Homo sapiens: one gene and its partners. The protein of the gene in region 1 purifies or fractionates together with the protein of each later gene. This does not show direct contact. Each region holds a gene or a part of one and is shown in the gene's direction. Other genes may lie near its edges. The genes, in order: FAM174A, ABHD17B, LCLAT1, TAMM41, SAMHD1, PDXDC1 and TTK.

Region 1 (4,165 bases):
GTTTCTGGCTCTCTCTCTGTATATATCTACCTGTATCTGTCTCTCTTTTAGCAATGAAAACAATAACTTACTCAAAAGACCCACGTATACCCTTGACAGGCATCTCATTGGTGAGAGGTACATCATGCGGCCACTTCTAGTTATCTGCACAAATTGAAGTTCCATATTACTGAAGTCAAACAGGCAAGGAAGACATTATTGAAGACTACTGCTGTTGGGAAAGGGGATAAAACTCTTCTAATCTCAACTCCTCTAAAAGAAAAAAAGGAGTGGAGAGTTATTAAGAGCTATTTTGGGAAGATCACCGGCCACCTGAGTTTGCTGATTGACTTTACCCAAAGGAAAAGTAAATTTTCTCCTCCATGACAGGAGGTGGTTTTACAACTTGAAGCGAGAAGCCTACAACAGTTAGGTTCCTTTCCTCTCACACAAAATAAGAGATGGCCCACTACCTTCCTTGCTGATTATATTTCAAAGGCATGATGGCTTTCCATACCCTTGAGATAGTTTTCAATTATATAACTGGCCAGAAGCTTTAAAAAATATTTACATCTGAAAAGGGAAGAGAAATAACTTACAATGGTAAAGTTTTCTAAAGTAATTTTTTTTAATATACTTTAAGTTCTAGGGTATATGTGCACAACGTGCAGGTTTGTTACATATGTATACATGTGCCATGTTGCTGTGCTGCACCCATTAACTCGTCATTTACATTAGGTATATCCCCTAATGCTATCCCTCCCCCCTACCCCACGACAGGCCCCGGTGTGTGATGTTCCCCATCCCGTGTCCAAGTGTTCTCATTGTTCAATTCCCACCTATGAGTGAGAACATGCAGTGTTTGGTTTTCTGTCCTTCTAATAGTTTGCTCAGAATGATGGTTTCCAGCTTCATCCATGTGCCTACAAAGGACATGAACTCATTACAAGCAAATGCTCTTTAGAAAGGGAGGTCAGGGACCCATAGGCAGGAAAAAAAGCCTGCTTAAAGCTTGTAATGAAGCTAAGGAAAACTAAGCCCTTCTGGCTTACAGATTAAATGTGTTATTGCAGTTTGACACCAATGAATTCAGATTATGAGTTTCCAATCTCTCAGGGTTCCTGCATGAGAGAGTTGCTGTACATTTTACACAATCTCTTTTTGTCTACTTACTTTCTTAATACGCATCCTTGACCGCTCCTCACTAACAGTGAAAAGAACAATGCTTCCAAAACGGTCACGTCCTCGCTTTTTACACAAGTGCGCGTGCGCACTGGGCGCTAGGCCTCTGACGTCACCAAGTGCATCCGCCCCTACAAGTTAGCAACCGAAGGCGTCCTTAGCAGCAGTGGCCGCTGAGATGTACGAACTTCCGGTTCTCCGGGCAGCTGCCACTGCTGTAGCTTCTGCCACCTGCCACGACCGGGCCTCTCCCTGGCGTTTGGTCACCTCTGCTTCATTCTCCACCGCGCCTATGGTCCCTCTTGGAGCCAGCGTGGCGGGCCTGGCGGCTCCCGGGTGGTGAGAGAGCGGTCCGGGAACGATGAAGGCCTCGCAGTGCTGCTGCTGTCTCAGCCACCTCTTGGCTTCCGTCCTCCTCCTGCTGTTGCTGCCTGAACTAAGCGGGCCCCTGGCAGTCCTGCTGCAGGCAGCCGAGGCCGCGCCAGGTCTTGGGCCTCCTGACCCTAGACCACGGACATTACCGCCGCTGCCACCGGGCCCTACCCCTGCCCAGCAGCCGGGCCGTGGTCTGGCTGAAGCTGCGGGGCCGCGGGGCTCCGAGGGAGGCAATGGCAGCAACCCTGTGGCCGGGCTTGAGACGGACGATCACGGAGGGAAGGCCGGGGAAGGCTCGGTGGGTGGCGGCCTTGCTGTGAGCCCCAACCCTGGCGACAAGCCCATGACCCAGCGGGCCCTGACCGTGTTGATGGTGGTGAGCGGCGCGGTGCTGGTGTACTTCGTGGTCAGGACGGTCAGGTGAGGCAAAGCCTCGGTGGGGCACCCCCGTGGGCCTGAGATACGCAGGCCGGTGATCTCCAGCAAGGCTGACTTCTGTGACCCTTTCCCCCTTCCCCAGCATCAGGGACTCCTGCTTAAGAATATGATATTGACTTTCTTAAAGGCCTGTTACCTTTGGAGCAATTTAAACCTATAACTAATTGCTGCCTTTTGTTTATAAATGAGTGCCCTACCTCCAAATCTCTTCATCTGACCTACAACCCACGTCAGCCTCAAAGGGCACCCTTTCTCTGAAGTGAGGATAATCTTTATTCCCTAGAATTTTGACTACTCTGTCTTGTAATACTTCTACCTTTCTAGTCTAAATTTTTGTATACCTAACTGGTCAAAATTTTGCCAATCAGAATGCAAACTCTTTAAAGACAGGATATCTATTTAGTAGGTTTGTGAGTCTTACAAATTATTTGTACAATGCTGCCACTTAATAGGAAATCAATATATATTTGAGTGGATTAATAGTAATATAGAGGTGCCTTATGGATATTTTATTTTTATAAAATTCAGGAGAAGAAAAGTTCTTCCTTACTATCAGTGTTTCCTAGTATTGCCCTTTAATCTGCCACCTAAGTGGCAGAGAATCACCTTCCTGAAGAGTTGACATACAGAGCCAAGACCTCACCATTAGGAGAAGCCAGCAAAGAGATAAGGTGAGGGAAAGCTGTCTAGCAGTTTATTTCATTATAAAATAAGTGTAGAGGGTAGGTTTGCAGCTTATGTTTGTTTATTGTTTTCAAAATTCACGTTTTTCCCATAAATACCCTCTGTATTGTAATTTAACATATTTCTTTAAACTGATTATTTAAAGCAAAAGTTTCCTTTTAAACAAGTCGTTATTATCATGAATGGAAAACCAACATCACTTGGCTAGTTAAAAAATAGTGTAAGCCAGTGGTTCTTGACATGTGGGCCAGGGAACCACACAGGTGGGAGTTTCACTTAGACCTCTTCAGGGCATCTACAGTATTAAAACTATTTTCAAAATAATACATTCTGTTACAGGCTTATAGGGTACAAGTAGTTCATTGATATTGTTTCAGATTCCACATTGCAACTAATCTTTAAGAAACTGCTTGTCAAGTTTTGGTGTAGTAGTATCATAAAGGAATAACCACTCATATATAAAAAGGCTATTAAAATGTTTCTTTCCATTCCAAGTTTATATCTGTGCGAAGATGGAATTACTTTGTATGCTTCAACCAAACAACACATTGCAAAGGATTTAATGCAGAAGTAAATATAAAAATCTATCCATTTCCTATTTTTTGTTTCTATTTTTTATCTACTCCTATCACCTTAAGCCAGATATTAAAGGGAATTGGAAATAAGAATCTAAATGTCATTCTTTTTACGTTTTTTTCTTTTTTGAAAATATAGTTGTTTTTCATAAAAGTTATGTTAACTTGTAATGTGTTTACTATTATTTTAAATCAGTTGATAAGTATAGGTTTTCTCAAGTTTAATTAATATGGTAAAGTTGATATGTGTAATTCACATAAATATAAGTTATTTTGGGTTCCTGAACAATTTTAAGAATGTAAAGAAATCCAAAACAGCAGGCGTAAGCAATATTTGAGAACCACAGCTGTAAGAAATATTATTTGAGCTAGATATTGTTGGTTCACAAAGGCTAGCAAATCTGCACTCACACTCTAAGTGTTAAAAGCATATTACCACCAAACTGAGACTTTCTTCTTAATATAAAGAAAGATTAAAAGAATATTGAAACAAATTATTTTCCTCACTATATAACTGTTATTTACTGCTGTCTGTACATAGTTCCTATAAAAATGCATGGCCCCTTGAATGTTGTATCTCTTATACATAAAAATGATAAGTATAATGATAATTTGGGGGGAATATTCCTTCCTTGTTTTTTTCCTTTTGCTTCCACCTTTTTAATTATTTTAAATACACATATTTATTACCATTGATTTTCTGTCATTAATGTTGTAAAACTTGGACAGATACAGTCCTTCCAATATGATCCTATTGGATGACTTGGTAACATGATGTGTGTTAACAGCCAAATTCTGAACTATGGCTAATAAAAAGTGCATTCTTTAACCAGCATCTAACATATTCATGCAGTCCAAGTCCTACATTTAGTTGGCTGCCTGGCATCCAAAGCTTGAATGATGCTAACAATGTCTGGGCAGTGTTCCGAACT
Region 2 (4,003 bases), on another chromosome or scaffold:
GACTTTACAGAAGTCCTGCTAAAGATAAACAGCAAAACAAGTATTTTTACATTAACCAAATATTTTTATCTTCAAAACAATTGTTACAAAACAGAAATTTCACACAATACTAGTGAGGACAGCCTAAGACAGCTTAATCATTCACATTTCCTCTATGGGCTTGGGGTTTTTGGAAAAAAAAATCGTAGCTGCATAAACTTGGTGTAAAATTTGAAAAAGCCACTCATGCCACAATCCTCGTTTCCCTCTGCTAATGTGATCCAGATGGGAACGCTGAACGACGTAACTGCCCCATCTGCACCTTAGATTTCATTAGGGTCCTGTTCACTCTGTGCAATTAGTTAAGTGTGCTGACCATCAAATATTTACCAGGAGACAACATGTCCAGGTCAAAGAAAGGGCGTGAGAATAACATTTTAGAAAGAGTTGCACTGCAGCCAAGACTAACTCTGGGCTGCGGTCCACACTCGCCCCAGCCGACTCCTCTCATTTCCTCTCTCCCCTCTCCAGTGAGCCATTCCTTCCTGGAGTCAAAGACGGTGCAACAGGCAGGTTCCTACCTTGGTCTGCACACTTTTATCGAACTTGTCATTTTTGAAGCTAAACGTATTCTGGTGCTTCTGAGGTCTGGAACGAGCCACGTTGCCTTTCTGGGAGCTCATCGCCGAAATCAAAGCCACCCCTCGCCGGGAGCAGGCAAAAGGATGAGGGGAAAGAAAACCAACGAACTACTCCCAGGAATTGACGCTTCTGTCAATGACCCGGAAGAAACAAACGCAGCCTTTCCGCCCCGGCTCTGGGTCAGCCCACGTGACTCTTCTGGGAGGTCAAAGAGCATCGCTCTGCCCTCCCTGCTGTTAAGCCAAGCCACTCCACGCGGCGCAGCCTCGACCCCTCCGGCTCCGCGCAGCCTCTTTCTCAAACCCGGAGAACAAGTCCCACTTTCTTCGAAATGAGAATTCCCCCATTGGCCCGAATGTGTAGTCCATCAAATCAAAGGGGCGGGGAACCTTTGTTCCTATTGGTTCTTCTTTTCCGCAATCCCCGCCTCCTGCTGAGCGAGCTCAGCCTCTCCTTGAGCTCAGAGCGCCTCCCACCCTGCCGGGCGGCCTCTGATTGGTGGAAGTGAGGCAAGGCTGGGCTCCGTCTCTCCCCCCGCCCGCTAGTAGGCTGGAGCCGGGGTCAGCTTTGGCACCTTCCTCCAGTCAGTGGCCAACTCCTGGCTCAGTGGGGATTGTGCTCGTCCCCTCCGTTCCCCTCCAGTCTTCCTCCCGCTACCGGAACGAGCCTCGCGCTTGGCAGGCTGAGGAGGAGCAAAGAAAGCAGGATTAAAGAGAAGGAAGACCTGGCTAGGTCTGGGTGGCGTCTGCAGTGCCAGAAAGGGAGGCGGTGGCGGCGGCGGCTGCGACCACGGCCGCGCGGGACGTGAGGCCCGAGAGCAACCGACGGGCAGCGGCGGCCGCTCCAGCGCCCCGCACCGGGGCCGTTAGTCAGCAGAACGCGAGCTCTTGTGGAGGAGCAGGGCCGGCGCGAGGCGAGACTCGGGAGCGTGAGCGGGGCCCCTGGGGCGCCGCCGTCCTTCTTCGCCCCGGCGCCGGGGGCTGTAGCCCTGGTCCCCGCTCCTCTGTCGGGCCAGTCTGCAGGCGGAGAGAGTCGGACGGCGCCCGGAGCGCGGATCTCGCCTTGTGGAGGACAGCGCGTCGGCTGCGGTTCTCTCTCGACCCCTTCTGCCCGGCGCTTCGGCCCGGGCCGCTCAGGTGCAGGTGCGTGCGGCCTCGGGGTTTGGGGACGCCGCAGCCCGGCTCGGGGAGGGGGCGCTAGGCCGGGAGCCGCAGCGCGGGAGGGACGAGCCCGGGCCGGCGGGGGGAGGGGAGCGGGAAGCGTCTTTGTTGTTGGCGACCGGGATCCCTTCTCGGCACAGGGGAAAGGCGGGGAAGCCACTCCTCATCGGGTCTGTGTTTTTGAGAGGATTCTCTGATGGTTGCGTGAAGGGGAGCGGTAGGACAGTCCCTGCGGTCCGTGGAGCGGCCGGAGTCAGGGGGTGGGGGAGGGAGGACCGACCGACACTCTAAGAAGGTCTTTGGTCCTCCTCGGTGAAGAGAAGGGTTCCATTTCATTTCCTTTGCTTTTCTCTCAGTGGATGAAAAGATGGGGTCAGGTTCCCATTCCCCTCACTGGCGCACTGAGAGATTCGCGGGTGCCTAAAAGCTTTCTCCTGAATGTCCTTATATCTCTGTCGGGCGCGATTTTAGATTGAATCTGCACGGGGCTTGGCGATTTGTGTATTCCGGTGGGGCTGTCGTAGGGTTCTTTTTCTTTAGATGGTTGGGCTTTAATCTTATTTGTTTTCGAACTCTAAGGTAGGCTTATCAGGAATCGTTTTTGAATTGGAAAATTTAAAGGTTTTGTTTGGGATTTTTTTTAACCCCGAAACAAAGTTATGTCAAATTAGATTGTACTGTGTGGGGGCTCTCGTGAAGGAAAGAGTGTATTTAACCTGGGGTTTTTGTTTAAAAAAAAAAAAAGTTCAGATCTTTGATCTTTGGTGAGATCTCTGCCAATGCCAGAAGAGAATTTTTTGTAAATGATGCTTTAAGTCAGTGTGAAGTAGATTTGGTAAGCAAAAGGATGAATAACGGAATACAGAGGGTGACCTTTAAATTTCGCTGTTTATGAAATGTGTTCCTGTTTAATACTTTTTGTGATATATGATGCTTGATCTATAGATGATTCATTTGGAATTTTTTTATGCCTCTAATAAATCTTTGGAGATCTTGTGCCAACATATGAAACTATAATACCTAATGAGTCGGAGTAGAAAGCCAGATACATGTTGTAATAACGTTAATCTGTTTAGATTAACAGGGAAATTTACATTAAAATGAACTTTTTTCCGTAAAGAGTTTCTCTACATATGTTTATAGCATGAATTTCAGTTGGGTGACATCTAATGATAGCCAGTATTTTGAAAATTGTCATGATTGCTAGTATTCTAATTTGAGACTGCTCAACTTGTTGGTAAGTTTTTATTTGGAGAATAGGGGTCGTGTTACTTAAGGAACAGCAGAGGTAAAAATCTCTGTTGTGCAGTAATTGTCATATCATTTGAAATCCAGAAGGAAATGAATGGCACCTTCACCTATATTTTGACCTCTCTTTTCTCCTACTCTAGTGTTAATAAGGTTAATTGGCAAGGACAGGATTAGATTTTTAGCAGGCTAGGCAGTTTTAATTTTGTCCCTTAGTGTGCAGTATTCTAGTTGATGAGTAGCTTGTTTCCTTGAGTATCTTTGCCCATTTTGAAATGTTTATGAAATGACTGCTGACAAAGAATTTTCTGTTTCCTGGGACAAACAAAATCACCAAAAAACATCATGAAAAAATAATGTTTTTAGTAGCTTAATGAACACAGAAGAATTAAGCAATTAGTGTCTGTTCCAAGTTTGACACTGAATTGGTCTACAACTCCAGGCACGCTATCCCACATCTGAGTCAGTTTTCTCCATCTGTAATATAGGGCTGATAAAATGTGCCACCTGCTCACTTTATAAAAAGGGGAGTGAGAACCATGTAAGCAACAGTTACTCTGGTTATGTGACATTGATATAAGTTAAATGAGAATACTTTTTAATGCAGTGCTCTTACTTTGTTTTGATATTATGAATTTCAATCATTTGATGAACAGTTAGCATAAAGATAAGGAGAATGACTCTCCCTATGCCATCATTTAAGAATTAAAATTTCTTCCGTATTAAGATTGGTGTTAAGATCTTTAGAAGCAGTGATGACAAGAAAATAGAGTATATTTTATTGGTTGGTTTATTTACTGGTAGATTTTACTTCTGATTTATCCAAAGTTTTGCTCTTAATTCTGAAAATTCCCCCTACCCTTCCTACTCTTTAAAATTTCTCACATACATTGCCCCATTTGCCTGTCGAATCCAGCCTTGTGAGTTGGAGAGAGGGAAGGTGAGTTTGTGGCCTTTTTTTTTTTTTTTTTTTT
Region 3 (3,500 bases), on another chromosome or scaffold:
GTTGCCTAGGCTAGTTTCAAACTCCTGGCTTCAAGCGATCTTCCTGCCTTAGCCTCCCAAAGTGCTGGGATTACATATGTGAGCCACCACACCCATCCCAGTCTTGGATTTTTTATGTTATTTTTCATAATGAAAAGCAAAGGATTGTTTGGGATCTATAGGTATCATATATTAGAGATTGCATATATAGGTTTAGATTTGAGGTTTGGAATTTATAGGCTTAAGATTTTTAACTCTTGGCCGGGCACGGTGGCTCATGCCTGTAATCCCAGCACTTTTGGAGGCCAAGGCGGGCGAGTCGCAAGTTCAGGAGTTCAAGACCAGCCTGGCCAACGTGGTGAAATCCTGTCTCTACTGAAAATACAAAATATTAGCTGGGTGTGGTGGCGGGCACCTGTAATTCCAGCTACTCGGGAGGCTGAGGCAGGAGAATCACTTGAACCCGGGAGGCAGAGGTTGCAGTGAGCCGAGATCGCGCCACTACACTCCAGCCTGGGCGACAGAGTGAGACTCCGTCTCAAAAGAAAAAAAAGAAAAAGGGACATTTTTTGCTGTGGATCCACACCTGTAGGACTCTGCCATGATCCTTTTTACCAGGAGGTCTTCCATGTAGGTATTTCACTTTCAAGGGACTTTTTGGAGTAGGGGTTATAATTAGTTGAGCGGTTATGGACCCTTTTGAAAATTTGATGAAAACTGCAAGCATTTTACCTAGCAAAGTATGTGTACACATTGACATATCTTTATATACAGCTTAAGAGAAATACATTTTTATTGACCTCTTGGAGGCCATCGTTCTAGGACATAATAGATAACTGGATTAAATACCCATGCTGAAAGTGAACCTCAGCTGTGGGAAAGTAACTTAATGGACCTATGGGATATCTGTAGCTACTTAGCCCAAATGATTTTGTATCAGGATGTTAACACTTTGACTCTGTAACAATTTGGACATATAACTTTTCTAACTTCTTTTTACTTTCTAGTATATTTCTTTAGCTAATATTATTTTGAACCTATGTTTTATTGATCCTGTTATGTTTTTCAAAGTCTTACTGTTTCATATTGCATTTTTAAAAAAATGCCTTTTTGTTGTGAAGTATAGCAAACATACCGAAAAGTTATTAAAACACAAATGTACAATTTAATGAAAAATTTTGCGTGTAACTGTCAACCAGGTCAAGAAATACAGCATTGTCAGTTCTCCAGCAAGCTACCTAGACTTCCAATGAAAACATCCTCCTTTTGGTAGAAGTATTCATTAATCTGACTTTTAAGATAGTTATTTTCTTCTTGTTCTTTATAATTTTAGCATCTATATAATCATCTTTAAAATATCTTAATCTTTTAGAAAGTCTTATATATTGACATTTATTGTATATATTTTTGTTTGTTTTGCTGTCTTTCAAAATTATGCTTCTGTGTATCTTTCATGTTGCTGTAGGTACTTGTAGTTCATCTACTTTCATTGTTGTATCATTTTTCCATTATATGAGTATACCACAGTTTGTCTATTGGCTATACCTTGTTCAAGATTATCATGATATTCGCCAAGAGAACTTTTGATTCTGTATCGTATATTTGCCTTTAGATCAATTTCTCTCTTTATTAATAAGTCAAATATTAACTAGTAAATTTGTTACATGTAAATTGAGAATTCAAAGAAGAGTTTGAAATCAATAATCAGCTTTTATTGTAATCTGTTATTTTACTTTCAAGAACTCATAAGTCTATAATATATTGTTTTTCTAAATACTTCATATGTATTATATACCTGGCCCATCAGAAAAGCAAATTAAGGAAATTCAGCAATTATTTGAACATTACTATTTTCTAGGTACTAAGGCTTGTAGTATTTTAGTAGATGTATAGTTAATTTATTCTTTACATAGTGTCAAAATAAATAAGATCTATGTTTTTGTTTTTAAAACATCATAGTACAGGATGCTATAAAGTGAACAGTTTACCTTTCCGGGATTTTTTTTTTTCCCCTGTACCCAGTGCTAATTCTTTGACTGTTCTTTCTAGAAAAAAAGGTAATAATGTTACATATCTATATCCTTAAAATATTACACAGTAGAATATTGATATTCACCTTTTATACTTTTTGCTTAATAAGATATCTTGATTTCAAGGACAATCAGCATTTTTTAATTAGGACATCACAGAAGCTTAAAATAGAAATAGTGCTTGATATTCTCATTCTTCTAGATAACCTCACCACTCAATTTTTTATTATAGAAGCAAGGATCATGGGAAATACTAACTTTTACATGTTAGAAATCATAAGATTTATTTATAGGGCATGATAAAATTTACCTATGGAAAATCATAACTTTAATTTGCTGTATATCTGTATTGTTTTCTTAGGCATTATTGGAGACCATGTTTGGTGTAAAAGTGATTATAACTGGGGATGCATTTGTTCCTGGAGAAAGAAGTGTCATTATCATGAACCATCGGACAAGAATGGACTGGATGTTCCTGTGGAATTGCCTGATGCGATATAGCTACCTCAGATTGGAGAAAATTTGCCTCAAAGCGAGTCTCAAAGGTGTTCCTGGATTTGGTAGGTTATTCACACATTATTTTAAGTGGTTCATTCATTTTAGATGTAATGCACCCACTGTAAAACTGACTTAAGCATTAAAGCGATTCCATTTTTTTCCTCACTGGGCCAAAAACAATCTCTGGTTCTTTTGTCTTTAGTGGATCTGCTATGGCAGATGACTTTATTTTAATCTGTTTTTAAAAAATATTACTCTGAAAGAGAAAATAAACTGTTCTCAAGGAAATGGATATATAGTATCTGAGGACCACAGCATTGAAGGATATGAATTAATAGTTTAGTAACTTTTTATTGCAGGTAGTACTTGTGATTTCGGCCAGAAACTGGTCTGTGCTGATAAAGTACTTGACATTGACTGATTCATTCATATTCATGTAGTAAGTATTAATTGAATATGTAGGTTCGAAGCATTCATTATGCTAGGTGCTGGTACTTTCTGAACTTCCCCAATCTATAACTTTTTTTAAAAAATGTTTTTATCGCGCTTGTATAATATAATATTAAAGTTCCTGGAAATGTTTATTTTAAATGGCTAGGAATACAACATGTTCATTGTGTGTTGGAGAAGTAGGGATATTTCAACATTGCATGTTAAAAATAAATGGCCTCCTTTCTCAACTTGCTACTTAATGTGAAAAAGGGAGGGGAAAGATTATAAATATATTCAAACCAGTTATTCACATGGGTATATGAAGTACCCACTATATCCTCCTGACAGCCTTGTTAATTACATTTATACTTCTGTGGTTTACCTAGGTAACATTTCTCACTTAAACTATGTACCCTCTTAAACCATTCCTCTATTAGTATACTGACGTGGTTTATGATTTGTGAGGGCAAAGGGCAGGCCCTCACAGGATAGACTAGTAAGGATAGACTAGCAAGGGTGTTTGTAGTTGATTTACTGTGTGTGTGTGTGTGTGTGTGTGTG
Region 4 (3,500 bases), on another chromosome or scaffold:
CAGCCCTGCTTACCAGAGGCAGCTGCTTTCGTCTCTATAGCTGATTCTTCTGATATTCACCTCCATGTTCTAAATAATATGCTTCGACTATTATTTCTTGATTTTTTTTCAATCTTACACTTTATTTTTGCCATCCTGGAAGAAGGGGATTTTTTTTACCGTCTTACACTACCCCATCAATTCTTATACCAATTACACACTCACACACATGCACTTAGCACACACATTCTCTTCCCCTTCTACCTCACGCCCTCATGCTTCACATAAAGTTACTTCATATTTTTTGTTAGCTTAATATTCAATGTTTATTTTATTGTGACAGCCTTTTCTTTATTGATGAGCTGTGGCATTATGAAGTTCCTTTTCCTGTACAACTTTGTTTCTCCTGGAGTTAATAGTTGTCTTATTTTTTCAGTTGCTTAGGTCAGTCATCCTCAAACTCTTGACAGATCCGTAAAACTCTTCCCATTATAGACAGATTTATTGGGTATTTTCTGTTTCTTGTTTCTCACAGGAATGTTTTTCCTGGAGCCCCCTGCCCTGTTCCTTTCTCAACTGGTTGTTTTCTAGCTCACTGCACAGCCGCACTCCTCCACCTTCCCTTCATTATCACCCTGAGAATTCCCTTTGCCTCCCCCGTGCTAGTTTTTGGTTTTGTGGGTCTTGCATTTTCCTCTTCCACGGTTTATACTCTGATATTAGTGAAGTTTGTCTTTTATTACCTTCTTAAAGGGTGTGAGGGAGGCAAGTTTTTGAGACTATATACCTCTGAAAATTCTACCCTCCCTTTGATAGATAGTATTGGCTAGATATCAAATTCTAGGGTGGAGATAATTTTCCTTCTTTATTTATGTCTGTTTTCCATTCATTATTCAGTCACTTGGTGGGCTCTTTCTTTCTTTCTTTTCTTTCTTTCTCTTTTTTGACAGGGCCTTGCTCAGTTGCCCTGGCTAGAGTGCAGAGGCGTAATCCCAGCTCACTGCGACCTCAAACTCCCAAGCTCAAGTGACTCTCCCACCTCAACCTCCTGAGTAACTACTGGGACTACAGGCACGCGCCACCACGCCTGGCTGGTTTTTGTGTTTTTAGTAGAAACAGTTTCACCATATTGCCCAGGCTGGTCTCAAACTCCTGGGCTCAAGCCATCCTCCCACCTTGGTCTTCCAAAGTATTGGGTTAACTGGTGTGAGCCACAGCGCCCAGCCTCAGTGGGCCTTTTCTATCTGGAATTTTATAAGCTTCAATTCTAAGGAATTTTTTTTATTATTTCTGTAATTATTTCTTCATACCCATTTTCTTAGTTTGTTCTTCCTGGGATTCCTGTTAGGTGGTTGCTAGACCTCCTGGTTTAACCTTTTTTCCTTTCTCTCTCTCTCTCTCTCTCGTCTCTTCGTTTATTAAATTTAGCTTTATGGGAGAATATTTCTGATTGGTTTTCTAACACTTCTACTAAATTTTTAATTTTCCCAAAATGTTCTTTCTTATAGCTTCCTATTCTTGTATTATGGATGCATTATTTTCTCCTAATCTCTTTAATGATCTTTATTATAACTTTTGAAGATTTTGTCTTGTTCTCTCACACTGTTTTCTTTCTCTTAGTTCCTCTTGTCTGTTTTTACTCTAGTCTGTTATGTTAGAAGCTTTTTTCAAATGTCTGAGTTTCCTTCCTGGCCTGATTTTTTAAATTAATTAATGAATTAATCAATTTGAGAGGGGATTTCACTCTGTCACCTAGGCTACAGTATAGTGGCATGATCATAGCTCACTGCAGCCTTGAACTCTTGCACTCAAGTGATCCTCTCACCTCAGCCTCTTGAGGAGCTGCGACTACAGGCCCATGCCACTATGCCCAGCTGATTTTTTTATGTGTGTGTGTGTGTGTGTGTGTGTGTGTATACACAGGTGTGTGTGTATGTGTGTATATGTATATATACATATATATACACATATATACACACATATATACATATATACACACATATATACATATATACACATATATACATATATACATATATATACATACATACACACACACACACACACACACACACACATATATTTGTACCCATATGATCTGAGACATTAAATTTTTTTTTGTAGAGACAGGGTCCCACTTTGTTGGCCCTGGCTGGTCTCGAACTCCTGGGCTCAAGCGATCCTCCTGCCTTGGCCTCCCAAAGTACTGGGATTACAGGCAAGAGCCACCGTTCCTGGCTCTGGCCTGTTTTTAAAGAATGAGGCACTAAAATACAGGCTGGAAGTTCTTTGTGATATATCAGGCTTGTCAACTGGTGGGCTTGACTATAGGATTATGAGGCAAAGACCTAGCTATTTTGTTTTGTTTTGTTTTTTTGAGATGGAGTCTTTCTTTGTTGCCCAGGCTGGAGTGCAGTGGCGCAATCTCGGCTCACTGCAACCTCCGCCTCCCAAGTTCAAGCGATTCTTGTGCCTCAGCCTCCCAAATAGCTGGAACTACAGGCATGCACCATCACACCCAGCTAATTTTTGTATTTTTAGTAGAGATGAGGTTTCACCATATTGGCCAAGCTAGTCTTGAACTCCTGACCTCAAGTAATCTGCCCGCTTCAGCCTCCCAAAGTGCTGGGATTACTGGTGTGAGCCACTGCACCTGGCCAAGGACCTAGCTGTTTTATTGGAGGATCTCAAATATCAGTGTCTGTAGAATTTCTCCAGAGATCTTCTATTCTCTGGCTAGAGGACAGGGAAGTATAATGTGTCTGTCTACCAACTTTCTAGAAACTGAACAAGGGAAAAGGGCTAGGAATTTTCTCTAACTATAAAAATAAAGGTATCCAGAATCCTCCCTATGGCCTATAAAAGCCTGCATGATCTAGTTTCGCATCAGTTTCTTTTCCCAGGAAACTTACAAGAATAAGACTGGGGGACTGAGCTACAGCTCCCAGTGCTGTATCTGGCCTTGAGGCTGCAACTGAGACTCATCTTCTCCCATCTCTGCTACTCCTCCAGATTCCCTTCACCCTCATCTATCACTTCTGCTTATCTAGACAGGGTGGCCCAGACCCTCATCTCGGAGGAGTCTGGAGGACCCTGGCTACCGCACTTGTCCACTAACCATCAAAATTGGGCAAGGGGTACTCTAAGAGACGTGTATCAGCACCCCAGCTCCTGATGACCAGGGCCGATTGCTTCTGCCAGTGTAGTGACTCATTGCCTTGTCTGCTGGACTTACGGCATGGGATTCTAAATTAATTGGGTGGCAGTCGTAACTTAAAGTTAATGGGATGCTTACTATGTCCTCTGGTAGAAGCATCCCTTCTCTGGGAACTGGGACCTCTAGACCCACAGATCTAGAGCTGTAGTGATAGGAAGCAAAGTGTTCCCAAGTGGGTCCCTGGGAATGACGATAAGCAAGGTCACTTCTCTTTCTACCCTTGGTCCCCAGGCCCATGTCTTCTGCCAGTTGGGAATATAGTACAGCGTAATGGTGATTGATTCAGGATGTGTAGCACAACTCA
Region 5 (3,500 bases), on another chromosome or scaffold:
ATGAAGTGGAAGAAAGAAAGAATAGAACCTTCTAGTTTATCTCATATTCCCAGTCAGGTATCTGTTTATATTTTACAGATTAATAAAATTGCTTTGCTTTGTTTATAAATAGATTTGGTGCCTATCCTAAAACTTCCAGTGGGTTTTCTTGCCTTCCAGTGGCCATATAAAGGGCGTCCTGAAAACAAAAGCTTCCTTTATGAGATAGTATCTAATAAAAGAAATGGCATTGATGTGGACAAATGGGATTATTTTGCCAGGTATGCACTGAACACTTCTGAAAAGTTGGCTAAAATATTTATATAAATTTAGTATTACTATTTAAGGTACAGCTTCCTTGTTGAAAAATTTCATCTCTCTGTTTTGGAATCCTTCTAGGGACTGCCATCATCTTGGAATCCAAAATAATTTTGATTACAAGCGCTTTATTAAGTTTGCCCGTGTCTGTGAAGTAGACAATGAGTTGCGTATTTGTGCTAGAGATAAGGTAAGCTGTGCCAGAGGAGGCAATAAGAAGAATGTTGTTCCTGGTCTGAAATTTGGAAATAACCATTTAACAATTTGGAATAATTGGTAAATCGTCAGTCTCTTTACTTAATTCCTAGGATTTGTAAATATCTTTAGTCTCTTCCCTTCTACTGCATTATTAAATAATAATAAAATTAACATGGACATTTATTAAGTTTTGAGTTAGACACTGGTTTTGGGGTTTTTTTGTTTGGTTGGTTGCATTTTTTTTTTTTGAAATAGGATCTCACTGTGTTGCCCAGGCTAGTCTTGAACTCCTGAGCTCAAGTGATCCTCCCTCCTCAGCCTCCCAAGTAGCTGGGACTACAGGTGCACACTATCATGCCTGGCTTGTATGAGGCATCATTTTAAGTGCTTTGGACGGATCAACTCATTCCGTATAACCCTGTGAGATAGATACTATTATTCCATTCAACAGGCAAGCAAATTAAGGCACAGAGAAGGCATATAATTAACAAGTGGTAGAGTTGGAATTTCAACCCAAAAAGTTTGGTTCCAGAGTCTCTCTCTTTTTTTTTTTGAGACGGAGTCTCGCTCAGTCACCCAGGCTGGAGTGCAGTGGCACGATCTCGGCTCACTGCAAGCTCCGCCTCCCGGGTTCACGCCATTCTCCTGCCTCAGCCTCCCTAGTAGCTGGGACTACAGGCACTCGCCACTATGCCCGGCTAATTTTTTTTGTATTTTTAGTAGAGACAGGGTTTCACCGTGTTAGCCAGGATGGTCTCAATCTCTTGACCTCGTGATCTGCCCGCCTCGGCCTCCCAAAGTGCTGGGATTACAGGCATGAGCCAAGGTGCCTGGCCCAGAGTCTCATTTTTAATCACTGTATTAGTGTTGAAAAATTTTATACAGTTGACACCTGAACAAAATGGTGTTTAGGGGTGCTGTCCCCTCTCCTAGTTGAAAATCTGTATAAAACTTTTCTTTACCTTTTTTTTTTTTTGGAGATGGAGTCTCCCACTGTTGCCTAGGCTGGGGTACAGTGGCATGATCTCGGCTCACTGCAAGCTCTGCCTCCTGGCTTCAAGTGATTTTTCTGCCTCAGCCTTGTGACTAGCTAGGTTTACAGATGCATGCTACCACGCCCAGCTAATTTTTGTCTTTTTAGTGGAAACAGGGTTTCACCATGTTGGCCAGGCTGGTCTCGAACTCCTCACCTCAAGTGATCCACCCGCTTCAGCCTCCCAAAGTGCTGGCATTATAGGTGTAAGCCACTGTACCTGGCCTGCATATAACTTTTGACTTCCCAAAAACTTAACTAAATAGCCTTCTGTTGACCAGAAGCCTTATTGATAACCTTAATGGTCAGTTACACACATTTTGTATGTTTTTTGTTTTCTTTCCAGACAGGGTCTTGCTGTGTTACTCAGGCTGGAGTACAGTGGCACTATCATAGTGCATTGTAGCCTTGACTTCCTGGGCTCAACTGATCCTTCCTCCTCTGCCTCCCGAGTAGCTGGGACTACAGGCCTATGCTTGGCTAATTCTGAAATTTATTTTACAGAGGTGGAGTTTCACTGTGTTGCCCAGGCTGGTCTCAAACTCCTGGGCTCAAGCAACCCATCCACCTCAGTCTCCTAAAGTGCTATGATTATAGGTGTGAGCCACTGCATCCAGCCTATTTTGAATGTTACGTGTATCATATACCATATTCTTTTTTTTCTTTTTGGATACAGGATCTTACTCTGTCACCCAGATTGGAGTGTAGTGGTGCGATCTCAGATCACTGCAACCTCCACCTTCCCAGCTCAAGCAAATCTCCCACTTCAGCTTCCCGAATAGCTGGGACCACAGGCGCATGCCACTATACCGGGCTAATTTTTCTATTTTTTTTTTTGTAGAGACAGGGTTTCGCTATGTTCCCCAGGCTGGTCTCGAACTTCTGACCTCAAGCAACTTGTCCTCCTTGGCCTCCCAAAGTGCTGGTATTACATGTGTGAGCCGCCACGCCCCATCTACTGTATTCTTACAATAAAGTAAGCTAGAGAAAAGAAAATGTTATTAAGAAAATCATAAGGCAAGGCCAGGCGTGGTGGCTCACACCTGTATTCCCAGCACTTTGGGAGGCCAAGGTGGGCAGATCACCTGAGGTTAGAAGTTCGAGACCAGCCTGGCCAACCTGGGCAACATGGTGAAACTCCGTCTCTACTCAAAATACAAAAATTAGCTGGGCGCAGTGGCGAGTGCCTGTAATCCCAGCTACTTGGGAGGCTGAGGCAGAAAAATAACTTGAACCCGGGAGGCGGAGGCTGTGGTAAGCCGAGATTGCGCCACTGCACTCCAGCCTGGGCGGCAGAGCAAGGCTCCACCTCAAAAAAAAAAAGAAAGAAAGAAATTCATAAGGCAGAGAAAGTATATTTACTATTCATTAAGTGGAAGTAGATCATCATAAAGGTCTTCATCCTCATCGTCTTCACATTAAGTAGGCTCAGGAACAGGAGGGATTGGTCTTACTGTCTCAGGGGTGGCAGCGGGGCAAGGAAATCTGTATAAGTGAACTCTCACAGTTCAAACATGTGTTGTTAAAGGTCAACTGTAGTTAAACAGCTGAAATCACTAGGTCCCTGTTAGATGGCAGTCATGTAATCAAAAAGTAGTATAGTACTATACTATAGAAAGTCAAGAAGGGCTAGGCGTGGTGGTACATATCTGTAATCCCACTACTTCGCAAGGCTGAGGTGGGCAAATCTCTTGGGCTACCGAGTTTGAGACCATCCTGGCCAACATAGTGAAACCCTGTCTCTACTGAAAATACAAAAATTAGCCAGGCGTGGTAGCATACACCTGTAATCCCAGCTACTCAGGAGGATGAGGTACGAGAATCGGTTGAACCTGGGAGGTGGAGGTTGCAGTGAGCCAAGATTGTGTGCCACTGCATTCCAACCTGGGTGACAGAGCGAGACTGTCTAAAAAAAAAAAAAAAAGTCAAGAATGAAGAACATAAGAATAGTAATACCTATTTCCTAGAGTTA
Region 6 (3,500 bases), on another chromosome or scaffold:
AAGTAGCTGCAGAAACTCCAGCCTTCTTTCCAGCTTCGTGGTCAGCTGGAAGTCCTAACAGAAGTCTCGTATTGAACCAGCCACTGTGGCCAGGGAGAAGTAATCCTCTGATAGTTGAGGTTCTTTGCTCTCCTCTGGAGCAGATAGTGGTGTCTCCTCCCCACAAAGCTCATGTTCTGCTGGAAGAAATGGAGATGGCGCCCTGGAAGGCTATTGTAGGGCCATTAAGAGAAGCAGGGGGAACGGACGTGGGCAGCCAGAGTAGCCCATATCCACCACATCATACAGGGAGGTTTCTTTTTGATCCCTAAGTAAAGAATGATAACTGGAAAATAAGATCCATGAAAGAGAAGAATACTCCCATTATATTAAATGAGCGGGGATAGTTCCTGAGACACATTTTTATTAAAGTGCATTTTCAGGATTTTCCTTCATATGTATAAAGCACACCTTCTGTTGCTGTTAATGAAAGCTAATAACATTAAAAATATACTTAAGTGTCAACTTGCAACAGCACAGCCTTTATTTTTTTAAGTACATGGTGAGTAAGCAACATTAAATAATTAGTTCTTGGACTGGTGTTTTTTCTTCCAGTGTGAATCTGGCAACATTGGCTCTGGGTTATGTCTCCTCATCAGTGCTGGTATGTTGTTGATTTACTGAATATTGGTGTTTTTAAGAATGAATTTAAAGTCACTCAGTCCCTCATGGCTCTTCACAGTTTTTATGAATGGAGGAGGGTGTTAGGTTTGTGTATTCTGATAATCTAACAAAGAGTTGTTCTTGTTTTGGTAGGCTGCAGCCAAATGTGATAGCATGACGATGACTCCTGGCCCGTGGCTGGGTTTGCCAGCTGTTCCTGCGGTGACACTGTATAAACACGATGACCCTGCCTTGGTAAGTTTCCACTCACTGGGGAGGGAGTGGGTGTGGCTAATACACATTATTGGCTTTGGGGGCAAAATCCAGAAAAATACAGGAAAAAGTGAAAAATACCCATAATTTCACTTCTATTTCATTTTTTTAAAGAGAAACTTGTGAGACTTTTTTTAATGACATTTTATGATTGTATAATATTCTGTCACAATTTAATTATTCTCCATTTATGAACTTATAGGATGTTTTCAGAGTTTTGTTACTGAAATAATGAAGCAGTGAACGTCTTTCTGTGTTTCTAATTATTTCCTTAGAATAGGTTCCCAGATGTGGAATGACTGAGTGGGGGAGTTTTAAGCCTCCTGATCCACATTGCCCAATAGGTTTTAACTTTTTTTTTTTTTTTTTGATATGGAGTCTCGCTCTGTCACCCAGGCTGGAGTGCAATGGTGAGATGATCTTGGCTCACTGCAACCTCCACCTCCTGGGTTCAAGTGATTCTCTTGCCTCAGCCTCCCAAGTAGCTGGGATTACAGGCATGCGCCACCACGCCCGGCTTATTTTGTATTTTTAGTAGAGGCAGTGTTTCACCAAGTTGGTCATGTTGAACTCGCGATCTCAGGTGATCTGCCTGCCTCGGCCTCCCAAAGTGCTGGGATTACAGGCATGAGCCATCACACCTGGCCACATTTTTTTTTTTTTTTAATCGTAGTTGTGGGCCAGGCATGGTGGCTCATGCCTGTAATCCCAGCACTTTGGAAGGTTGAGGCAGGCAGATCGCTTGAGCCTAGGAGTTTGAGACCAGCCTGGGCAACATGGTGAAACCTCATCTCTATAAGAAAAAACAACAACAAAGAATTAGCTGGGCATGGTGGTGTGAGCCTGTAGTCCCAGCTACTCATGAGGCTAATGTGGGAGGGCTGATTGAGCCCTGGAGATCAAGGCTGCAGTGAGCTATGATCACACCACTGCACTGCAGCCTGGGCGACAGAATGAAAACGAAACCTGTCACAAAAAATAATAATAATAATGTGGTTCTTGATAATATAGGTCAGCGTGCAAAATAAGGTTTAAGTGATTTCTGCTAAAACACTGCTGTCTTGCTCAGCTAATAATGGCCAGGTGTTTGAGGATGCTCAGAGCTACCTTCGAAGTGGGGAGTCTCCTAGGTTCTGGGATGTGACCCATCTGGGTTTTCCACTGGCTTTTCCTGGCTTTGCCACTCCTGAGCTGTGAACCCTTGGACAAACCGAGGTCTCTGAGTGAAGTTACCTAGAATACTTAGCTCACAGAGTTGTTGGAAGATCACATGGATAATGCAAGCCTAGTGACTAGTATGGCATCTAGCCCACACTAAGTGGGTAGCAAATGGTAGCTGGTTAGTTCTATTATGAGATTGCAATGGCTTTGATTAATAAACCTCTTTTGGCTTTTTTAGACTTTAGTTGCTGGTCTTACATCAAATAAGCCCACAGACAAACTCCGTGCCCTGCCTCTGTGGTTATCTTTACAATACTTGGGACTTGATGGGTTTGTGGAGAGGATCAAGCATGCCTGTCAACTGGTGAGTAGAAGCCTGACATTTAAATGAAAGACTCCTTGGCCACAGCAGAGACAGAAAAACATCTCATTTCTGTACCTTCCATCCAGAGTGGTGTTGTCTGGATTGACTGTCTCGTGAGCCAGAGACTAATCGCCCTGCATGTAAATATTTCTTGTTCAAAGTTCTGGGAGAAAGTGCTGGGTTGTCTGTCCCAGCATTTGTGTGCAGATGAAATCAGATGAAAAGGAACACCACTGTCAGCATGGGATCAGAAAAGAAGTCACAGATGACTTCCAAGGAGTGGAGAAGGGTGCAAAAGGTGGAGGGGTGGGGAGCGAGTGTTCCCCTTGATTGACTGACTACGGTGAGGGAATAGGAAGGTTACAAGGTGGTTATGGAGGGCATGGATATTTTATAAACCAGCTGGCTTGGGTTTCCAAATTGCAGGGCTCTTGGGGACAATTCTAATTCTCTCTCCATTTTAGGTGTGTTCTAATTGTGAAAAATATATAATTATGCTATATTTCAGTGTTTTAGAGCATTCAGGCTTCTATAACAAAATACCTTAGAGTGGGTAATTTATAAACAACAGACATTTATTGCTTACAGTTCTGGACGTGAGAAGTCTCAGATCAAGGTGCCAGGAGATTCCATGTCGGGCCCGTTCCTCATAGATAGTGCCTTGCATGTGGCCTCACATGGCAGAAGGGGTGAGCACAGTCCCTTGAGCCTCTTTCAGAAGGTCACTAGTCCTGTTTGTGAGGGTTCCATCCTCATGCCCTAATGACCTCCCAAAGGCCTCAACTCATTTGCGATTAGGTTTCCACATAGGAATTTTGTGGGGACATAAATATTCAGATCATAGCATTTAGAAAGCAAAAAAACAGGCTGGGCATGGTGGCTCACGCCTGTAATTCCAGCACTTTGGGAGGCTGAAGCGGGTGGATCACAAGGTCATGAGATCAAGACCATCCTGGCTAACACGGTGAAACCCCGTCTCTACTAAAAATACAAAAAATTAGCTGGGCGTGGTGGCGGGCGCCTGTAGTCCCAGCTGCTCAGGAGGCTGAGGCCGGAGAAT
Region 7 (3,500 bases), on another chromosome or scaffold:
ATTGCTAACTGAATTAGTTTTTTACTTTGAAGATGTTTTAAAGCTTGTAAATACTTGAGGATTTTGGACACAAGCTCCGCATAGTTCTATAGTATATGTGCTTGGGTTTAAAGTTGTATTGCTTATTTATTATTTCCAATGGTCTTGTCTGAAGGGTTGCATAATTTAAGCAACCTTTGAAACTGTATACATACTTTGTACTTATATAAAAATTTATTATAATCCAGTAATTCTGGGGAAAACAAACTTAAAACTTACATTTTTTAATTTTATATTTTCACAAGTTGGGAAGAATTTAATATTTTGTCTTAATTGCAATATTTTAATTATGAGGTTATAGAAAGATTTAAAGTAAAGCTCATATCTTCTGATGGAATAACCAACTGAAATGAAAACTAGAAAAAGATGTTTTGTCATGTTAACATAATGTAGTACACATTCATTGAGATTTAATTATGATTTTAAATATGTATATTTAATATATATGTTTTTTCATTTTATATGAAAATAACAGCAACTTTTTTGTGTTTGTTTGTTTTTTTCTTAGATAAGCCCCAAAAGTGATGTTTGGTCCTTAGGATGTATTTTGTACTATATGACTTACGGGAAAACACCATTTCAGCAGATAATTAATCAGATTTCTAAATTACATGCCATAATTGATCCTAATCATGAAATTGAATTTCCCGATATTCCAGAGAAAGATCTTCAAGATGTGTTAAAGGTAATATTAATTTCATGTAACTAATTATTTACTTAAAAGAAATAGTTGAAATAATTGGAATTATGTAACTGGCTTAGATATAACTGTTCTATTCAAAAGAATTGCTAACTGAATTAGTTTTTTTACTTTGAAGATGTTTTAAAGCTTGTAAATACTTGGGGATTTTGCAAAAGTGCCTTGGGAGAAATAATCTTGTCATAATACTTTAGTGGGATATCTAAAAAGTAACTTTTATAATATAATGTAATCTGGAAAAATACTTTATCAATATCATATATGAAAACCTGCTTTGTTTTTCTTTTAAAATATCTTTGTTTTAATAGTGTTGTTTAAAAAGGGACCCAAAACAGAGGATATCCATTCCTGAGCTCCTGGCTCATCCATATGTTCAAATTCAAACTCATCCAGGTACTACTTCTTTAAAAATTTGTTTATTACTAGATTGGTAGTATAAACAGTCTGTTACCTATTAATATAACAAAGACAGAATCTAAATTGGCTACCCTTTGTCAGCCTGCCTTTTTCCTTAAGGAAGTTCCATTATTATAAATAGTAAAGTAAATAAACTTTTTTTTCTTTACTTCTGGTATTTATTTTTACTTATTCCAGATAACGGGTTATAATCAGTGATAAATTATAAGAATATCACTTTGTGCTATTAAACAAAATGTGTATTTACAATGGACTTATATTTTTCTTACTGGTACTAGTGTATTATTGATTTATTTTATAGTTAACCAAATGGCCAAGGGAACCACTGAAGAAATGAAATATGTTCTGGGCCAACTTGTTGGTCTGAATTCTCCTAACTCCATTTTGAAAGCTGCTAAAGTAAGTATGTCTATTCTTTACATTAATTTTTACTGTTTTATATAGTGAATTCGACACTTAAGGAAACAGGTAGTCTGAAGAAAAGTTGGTCCAATCATCAGATCAGTTATGAAACATGTTTCTACATTTAGATACTTAACATGTGCATTTTGACAAATATCGATTTACTTGATTTATATTCTTCTTCTGCATACAGTACAGTTCAAAGTAGATCATCACATAAGGTGCATTCAAAAGATTGCTGTCACGTCTCAACTGGAATACATTTAATATAGGAATATAGTGTGTCTTTTAATTCAGCACCATTATTAATACAGCTTTTGAATTCATTCCTTTTAGCCAGTTTTTTCCTTAGAGACATTACATGTAATGGCTTTTTTGAAGCTGTACACAGCAATCAACACAATTCTCAAAGCACAAGTCTCAAGCTTTTTAGCTTCCCAATGTCCATTTATATCTATACCATGATTTTTCAAACACCTAGTTATTTCTAGAACCCTGTGAATGCTTATTGACCAACTGATTTAGCCAACAAGCAGTTACTAATTATGTATTTCAGTTACAACATTATCATAAAATTATGGGAACCTAAACTATCAATACTCGTAGCTCTCTGGATACATATAAAATCCATCTAAGTTGCCAAGAACTTGAATACATTTTTTGAAGGAATTTACTATATATTCACTATATTTGCATTTATATGATATGAGGTACCTGTTTTCTTAAATTTTCTCAAATGCTAATGGCTAAATCAATGGATTTAGTAATTAAAAGTGGACCAAATTTGTTTTGTAATTGCTCTGTATTTTGTATCTCCATGTTTTAAGTTTATACTAATATATTATTCAAAGCCTCTTATAGCTATAGTTGAGGTGGATTATTTTTATAACTGAAGTTGTATGTTCCTTGAGGGCAAAGATGTCTGCCATCTTCATAAGTTAGATGTTAGCTGAGTCTTAAATCATTTTTAAATACATGGATTTTAATATATATCTAATTATTATATTTATATAATTTGTAATGTCTTCTATTTATTAGCTTATTATCATCTGAGAATATAAAGTTTCCTAATAAATATATTTTGTATAGGAATTTACCTAAGACTGGCTTTATTTAAGAAAAAGTAAAGAGATAAAGAAGGCCTTGAAGGCTCATATGTATGTTTATTAGTAGCTCTGTTATATTTCTCTCATAGAAAGATTGAGTTATATCTCATGATAGGTAATGCTTAAGGCCAAGCTTCGTGTTTAAAATTCTTTATTATCTCTAATAGTTTATAAAATAATTTCCCAACTGTAAGAACAAGAGAGAAATAAATGTATTATATTTAGAATACATCAAAATACATCTACTGATGTGACAGTACATTTAACTAAAAAATTGCAAAACAGATTTGTGTTTTTTAATTTCAGACTTTATATGAACACTATAGTGGTGGTGAAAGTCATAATTCTTCATCCTCCAAGACTTTTGAAAAAAAAAGGGGAAAAAAATGATTTGCAGTTATTCGTAATGTCAGATACCACCTATAAAATATATTGGACTGTTATACTCTTGAATCCCTGTGGAAATCTACATTTGAAGACAACATCACTCTGAAGTGTTATCAGCAAAAAAAATTCAGTAGATTATCTTTAAAAGAAAACTGTAAAAATAGCAACCACTTATGGCACTGTATATATTGTAGACTTGTTTTCTCTGTTTTATGCTCTTGTGTAATCTACTTGACATCATTTTACTCTTGGAATAGTGGGTGGATAGCAAGTATATTCTAAAAAACTTTGTAAATAAAGTTTTGTGGCTAAAATGACACTAACATTTCAAAGTTGTAAGGTTGTTTTCTTTAAGCAAATGTATTGTTGGCATGGCAGCAAAATTCTTAATTAGTAAAAAGTAGATTAGGGAAGATGTGAGACTAGACCTTAGTAAATGAACTTTGAAA

The links.
Region 2: the proteins of FAM174A (region 1) and ABHD17B purify together in Homo sapiens (affinity purification with mass spectrometry; 2 studies listed by BioGRID and IntAct, with this or other methods). This does not show direct contact.
Region 3: the proteins of FAM174A (region 1) and LCLAT1 purify together in Homo sapiens (co-immunoprecipitation; 2 studies listed by BioGRID and IntAct, with this or other methods). This does not show direct contact.
Region 4: the proteins of FAM174A (region 1) and TAMM41 purify together in Homo sapiens (affinity purification with mass spectrometry; 2 studies listed by BioGRID and IntAct, with this or other methods). This does not show direct contact.
Region 5: the proteins of FAM174A (region 1) and SAMHD1 purify together in Homo sapiens (co-immunoprecipitation; 2 studies listed by BioGRID and IntAct, with this or other methods). This does not show direct contact.
Region 6: the proteins of FAM174A (region 1) and PDXDC1 purify together in Homo sapiens (affinity purification with mass spectrometry; 2 studies listed by BioGRID and IntAct, with this or other methods). This does not show direct contact.
Region 7: the proteins of FAM174A (region 1) and TTK purify together in Homo sapiens (affinity purification with mass spectrometry; 2 studies listed by BioGRID and IntAct, with this or other methods). This does not show direct contact.

The regions. Positions count from the first base shown.
Region 1 is NC_000005.10:100,534,009-100,538,173, forward strand, and holds the start of FAM174A (membrane protein FAM174A precursor), read left to right. Parts: upstream 1-1,365; 5' UTR 1,366-1,522; coding exon 1,523-1,956; intron 1,957-4,165.
Region 2 is NC_000009.12:71,908,394-71,912,396, reverse strand, and holds the start of ABHD17B (alpha/beta hydrolase domain-containing protein 17B), read left to right. Parts: upstream 1-1,203; 5' UTR 1,204-1,763; intron 1,764-1,880; exon of another isoform or gene 1,881-4,003. Other genes in the region: uncharacterized protein C9orf85, read right to left, coding at 561-662. UniProt on the Homo sapiens protein: Hydrolyzes fatty acids from S-acylated cysteine residues in proteins. Has depalmitoylating activity towards DLG4/PSD95. Has depalmitoylating activity towards GAP43. Has depalmitoylating activity towards MAP6. Has depalmitoylating activity towards NRAS.
Region 3 is NC_000002.12:30,530,746-30,534,245, forward strand, and holds part of LCLAT1 (lysocardiolipin acyltransferase 1), read left to right. Parts: intron 1-2,370; coding exon 2,371-2,569; intron 2,570-3,500. UniProt on the Homo sapiens protein: Exhibits acyl-CoA:lysocardiolipin acyltransferase (ALCAT) activity; catalyzes the reacylation of lyso-cardiolipin to cardiolipin (CL), a key step in CL remodeling.
Region 4 is NC_000003.12:11,812,386-11,815,885, reverse strand, and holds part of TAMM41 (phosphatidate cytidylyltransferase, mitochondrial isoform a precursor), read left to right. Parts: intron 1-3,500. UniProt on the Homo sapiens protein: Catalyzes the conversion of phosphatidic acid (PA) to CDP-diacylglycerol (CDP-DAG), an essential intermediate in the synthesis of phosphatidylglycerol, cardiolipin and phosphatidylinositol.
Region 5 is NC_000020.11:36,913,709-36,917,208, reverse strand, and holds part of SAMHD1 (deoxynucleoside triphosphate triphosphohydrolase SAMHD1), read left to right. Parts: intron 1-159; coding exon 160-260; intron 261-378; coding exon 379-487; intron 488-3,500.
Region 6 is NC_000016.10:15,016,526-15,020,025, forward strand, and holds part of PDXDC1 (pyridoxal-dependent decarboxylase domain-containing protein 1), read left to right. Parts: intron 1-594; coding exon 595-643; intron 644-795; coding exon 796-897; intron 898-2,314; coding exon 2,315-2,440; intron 2,441-3,500.
Region 7 is NC_000006.12:80,039,149-80,042,648, forward strand, and holds the end of TTK (dual specificity protein kinase TTK), read left to right. Parts: intron 1-547; coding exon 548-724; intron 725-1,047; coding exon 1,048-1,132; intron 1,133-1,457; coding exon 1,458-1,555; intron 1,556-2,970; coding exon 2,971-3,054; 3' UTR 3,055-3,379; downstream 3,380-3,500.